Regions from separate parts of the Homo sapiens genome. Here region 1 is linked to region 2. Evidence: fine-mapped expression QTL. Tissue or cell type: whole blood. Region 2 holds a variant in brackets; the other region holds the start of a gene. All regions are shown on one strand. Distances are from middle to middle.

Region 1 (2,683 bases), 800 kb after region 2:
TGGGATTACAGGCGTGAGCCACTGCACCCGGCCACACACAAAAACTTCTACACAAATGTTCATAGCAGCATCATGTATAATAGCCAAAAAAGTAGAAACAGATGTCCATCAATGGATTAATGGATAAATAAAAGATGATGTCCAGCCAGGCACGGTGGCCCATGCCTGTAATCCCAGCACTTTGGGAGGCCAAGGCAGGCAGATCACTTGAGGCCAGGAGTTCAAGATCAGCCTGGGCAACTTGATGAAACCCCGTCTCTACTAAAAATATAAAAATTAGCCAGGCATGGTGGCACATGCATGTAATTCTAGCTACTTTGGAGGCGGAGGCATGAGAATCACTTGAGCCCAGGAGGTGGAGGTTGCAGTGAGCCAAGATCACATAACTCCACTCCAGCCTGGGAGACAGAGTGAGACTCTTCAAAAAAAAAAAAGGTGATGTCTGTATAATGGACTATTATTCGGCCGTAACAAGGAATGAAGTGCCGATACATGCTACAACATGGATGAACTTTGAAAATATTATACTGTGTGCAAAGGAAGGTAGTTACCTTCCCGGGTTCAAGCAATTCTCCTGCCACAGCCTCCCCAGTAGCTGGGACGACAGGCGTCCGCCACCATGCCCGGCTAATTTTTGTATTTTTAGCAGGGACGGGGTTTCACTATGTTGGCCAGGCTGGTCTCGAACTCCTGACCTCAGGTGATTCACCAGCTTTGGCTTCCCAAAGTGCTGTGATTAGAGGCATGAGCCACCCCACCTGGCCTAGCAGAGAGCAATTTTGAATACAGCTGTTAGATTCTGCACTCATGCCTTCTCTAATCCATGTCACTGGAGTAGAAATAATTGCTTTGACAGAACCTGGTGTAGATGTGTCTGTAGGAAGAAACTGTAAAATGAATGGATCATTTTGTGAAATATCTGCCCTTTCCCCACCTTTCTTTTGCTTCTTTGCCTTTTTCTCCCTAGTTTTCATTTCTTTCTTTTAGGGCGTCAGCCCCCCACCTCTGTGGTTGGGAGGGACTATTGCACGTCTACACTCTCGTGGGGATGAAATAGTGTTTGAGTTCGTTATTTGCATTTGCGCGTTATCTCCCCGAGGAGATGACAGCTTCTCTGCCAGCAGCGGGCAAAGGTGGGCTCTGAAGCAGAGGAGAGGAATTATCAGGAAAAGCTCATTTTCTTCTCCTGTCCTAGGGTTTCACTGATGAAGGCCTCTGGGACACCCACGTTGGGGGTGGGGGCGGTGAGGACCGCCACCTGCCCGCGGCTCCCCTGCAGCCAGGCCACGCGCGCTGTTGCTAGGGCAACCACCCGGCCAGGCCTGCGGCTGCCGGGAAGCCCCCTCGGGAGCGCGCACGGGAAGGGCTGTGGGGGCGCTGGCCGGCTGCGACGTCAGACCCCCGCCCCTCGGCGCCTGCCGGACCCAGCTCCATTCCCAGCCGCGCCTCCTTCGGTGGGCAGCCGGCCGGAACTCACGAATCAGAGCAGCCGACACATCGTCCGCTCAGCCAATCGTAGCAGATGTGTGATCCCGCCACCTCCCCGGACCCTGGCGGTTGTCGCTGAGTTGGCGACCGCGGGAGACGCTGCTGAGGCGGCTTCGGTTGCGGGTCGGAACGGCGCTGCTCTGCGGGGCCGGTCCAGGCTGGCAGCTGCCGGCGCTTGGCGGTGAGGGCGGGCTCCCGAGTGGCCCCCCACCGAAGGCGGTGGGACCAGCGGCTGAGGCCAGGATGCCGTCCAGGCGGCGCGGCGGCTCCTCACTCATCCCAGGTAAGGGGGACGCGGCGCTCGCTGCGGCTCCGCTCCCCTCTCGTCTCCTCACACCCGGCCCTGTGCCCCGTCCTGGCATCCCTTGGCCCCTTGTCGCCTTCTGCTCGGTGCCTCCCGGTTGTCCAACCCCGCCCCCGAGCGCGGAGCCCCGGGTCTGGCCCGTCCGGCCCCTGCTCCCACGCCCCTTCCCCCATCGCCGGCATTTCCCGGGCTCGGCTTCGCCCCGGCCGCCGGGGCCTCTCCCCTCTGCCCTTTCTCTCCCTTCTCGCAGCCCTGGGACCACGTCCTAGCCCCGCAGTCCCCTGGGATGAGACCCTCGTCTCGCCGGGATCGGACATTTGCCCCCACGTCTACCCCGGCTGCGCTTCTTGAGCTCATCGCCCCATCATCCTACCCGTTGTACGTAGTCCTGTCTGCATGGCAGTCGCCCGCCCCGCTCCAGGTGTCCCTGGGTCTTGCCCTTTTGCTCCTAAGCACCTTCCTTTCCCAACTCGCCTCTTCTCCCCTCACTTTGACCACCCACCATCGCAATCTCCTCTTCCTTCTCTTACTCTTAAACCTCCAGACACTTTCCCACTCTCTGCAATGCCGGATTCATCGCTTTTTTTTTTTTTTTTTTTGAGAGATGGAGTCTCTATGTTGCCCAGGCTGGCTTCGAACTCCTGACCTCAAGCTATCCTTCTGCCTCGGCCTCCAAAGTGCTGGGATTACAGGCGTGAGCCACTGCGCCTGGCTCAGATCCATAGTGTAATATCTTCATTCGTCCTTACATGAGCTGCACCCCATAACATGTAAAGTCCCTTGCCCAGAGTCTAGCACACAGTAGGCCTGGCACATGGTGGGTGGTCACGCATGTTAGCCTCTTCCTCCTTCCAGGCGTTTTGTACTTTCCAGATGATGGTAGCAAGAAGT
Region 2 (2,683 bases):
CCTAATTCAGTTGAGAGACAGTTCATCCTCATCCTAAAGGGCAAGTTTATTACACCGGCGGTTCCCAATATTCGAAGAAAACTGCAAAAACAAGCTGTAGGACCAGATAGCACCTTGGAAAACCTCCTGAGGATAGTCACCTCAGTCTTTTCTAATAGGGACAAGGAGGAGGCTCAAGAGAAAGAGAGAAAGCAAAAGAGAAGGATATAGCTGCGTTGCAGACTTGCAAAGCCCAGGATCCCCAAGGCGCATCTACTAGTTGCTACTGGTGTGGCAACTCAGGGCACTTCAGGAAGGAGTGCCCAGGCAGCAAGAAGAAGCCATCTTGACCTTGTGCAGCTTGTGGTGGGAATCACTGGAGATTGGACTGCCCCCAGAGATGGAGGTCACTGGATTCAGAACCAATCTCACAGTAGTCCAATGGGACTGACAGGTCCTGGGGCTCAAATTCCTGGCTCCAGTGGCTCAAAATGCCATTACTGCATAAGAACCCCAGGTGATTATAGAAATTGAAGAAAGGAGGGTGGACCTCATAGACACTGGAGGTAGCCTTTCTCTTCTCCTCTCTAGTCCAGGCCTCCCCGTCCTTGTAGCATAACCATGATGAGTGTCTCAGGAAAGGTGCTAACCTCATATTTTTCTCAACTTATTAGTTGTAGTTTGGGGGGCCTATTATTTACACATGCCTTTTTAATCATGGCTGAAAGTCCTATTCCTTTATTAGGTAGAGATATTTTAGCGCACTTGGGGGCCAGCATCTTTATAGCCCCAGGACAAACTCTTTGTCTCCTCCTGGTGGAAGCTAATCTTAATCCAGAAGTGTGGGCAACACAAGGAAGAATTGGTCAAGCTATAACTGTTTGGCCAGTCTGGATCCATCTTAAGGATCCCACCTCTTTTCCTAACAGAGACAATAGCCCCTAAAGCCAGAGGATAGGAAATGGCTAGAAGCCATTATTAATAACCTGACAATGTGGGGCCACCTCAAACCCTGTAACAGTTCCTGCAACACCCCAATATTAGGAGTGCAAAAACCTAGAGGGAATGAAGGCTAGTTCAGCACCTTGCCTCATTAATGAAGCTGTAGTTCCAATCCATGCAGTGGTACCTAATCCCTATACCTGAGGGAACTAAATGGTTCTCAGTATTAGATCCAAAGGATGCGTTTTTCTGTATAACATTACATCCTGACCCTCAATAATGATTTGCTTTCGAAGATTCCTCTGGCCAAACAACCCAGTTAACATGGATGGTGTTGCCGCAGGGATTTTGATACAGACCTCACTTATCTGGCCAGGCACTGTCAAAGGACCTCTCTGAGTTTTCCCATTCTCAGATCAGGGTCTTGCGATCTGCAGATGACCTACTGCTCTGCTCATTTTAGTATGCAACCTGCATTGCTTTAATATATTATTCCTTCAGTTTTGATCCTCCAGGATATGATTCATTTCTTCAGGATATGATTCAGTTCTTCAGGATATGATTCAGTTCTTCAGGATATGATGGTGATGTACAGATGGGGTTTTGGTGAGGATGTCCTTTCTGTTTGTTAGTTTTCCTTCTAACAGTCAGGACCCTCAGCTGCAGGTCTGTTGGAGTTTGCTGGAGGTCCACTCCAGACTCTGTTTGCCTGGGTATCAGGAGTGGTGGCTGAAGAACAGTGGATATTGGTGAACCGCAAATGCTGCTG[C/A]CTGATCGTTCATCTGGAAGTTTTGTCTCAGAGGAGTACCTGGCTGTGTGAGGTGTCAGTCTGCCCCTACTGGGGCGTGCCTCCCAGTTAGGCTACTCGGAGGTCAGGGACCCACTTGAGGAGGCAGTCTGCCCATTCTCAGATCTCAAGCTGCATGCTGGGAGAACCACTACTCTCTTCAAAGCTGTCAGACAGGGACATTGAAGTCTGCAGAGGTTTCTGCTGCCTTTTGTTTGGCTATGCCCTGCCCCCAGAGGTGGAGTCTATAGAGGCAGGCAGGCCTCCTTGAGTTGCAGTGGGCCCCACCCAGTTCGAGCTTCCCGGCTGCTTTGTTCACCTACTCAAGCCTTGGCAATGGTGGTCGCCCCTCCCCCAGCCTCCCTGCCGCCTTGCAGTTTGATCTTAGACTGATGTGCTAGCAATAAGTGAGGCTCCGTGGGCATAGGACCCTCCGAGCCAGGCACGGGATATAATCTCCTGGTGTGCCATTTGCTAAGACTGTTGGAAAAGTGCAGTATTAGGGTGGGAGTGACCCGATTTTCCAGGTGCCGTTTGTCACCCCTTTCTTTGACTAGGAAAGGGAATTCCCTGACCCCTTGCACTTCCTATGTGAGGCAATGCCTTGCCCTGCTTTGGCTCATTCTTGGTGCACTGCACCCACTATCCTGCACCCACTGTCTGACACTCCCCAGTGAGATGAACCCAGTACTTCAGTTGGAAATGCAGAAATCACCTGTCTTCTGCATCACTCATGCTGGGAGCTGTAGACTGGAGCTGTTCCTATTCAGCAACCTTGGCTCCACCCCACCTTAACCTTCCAGTTTTATGGATGCTGGTAGAAGGCATGAGACACTGAAGTATGACAAAATCCCTACTATTTACTGTATAACTGAAGGCCAAACTTCATGTTTGTATTTGTCCATGCTACTTTTTTTTAGAGGGATTTCAAAAAGCTCAAGTGGACATTGCACATGGGAAAGATTTGTGTCACAG

The links. PIP is the estimated chance that this variant, and not a neighbour inherited with it, causes the effect.
Region 1: TPST1 starts here. The variant in region 2 is fine-mapped to the expression of TPST1 in whole blood (INTERVAL, PIP above 0.99).

The regions. Positions count from the first base shown.
Region 1 is chr7:66,203,752-66,206,434 of GRCh38, forward strand. TPST1 (tyrosylprotein sulfotransferase 1) reads left to right here and starts at 1,583. Exons shown (of 6, transcript NM_003596.4): 1 at 1,583-1,771. RefSeq lists silencers at 1,206-1,475, 1,626-1,985.
Region 2 is chr7:65,405,458-65,408,140 of GRCh38, forward strand. No RefSeq gene overlaps it. Among named protein-coding and RNA genes, the nearest start is that of ZNF92, 33 kb to the left of the region's middle. The variant C/A (reference allele first, on the strand shown) is at 1,691.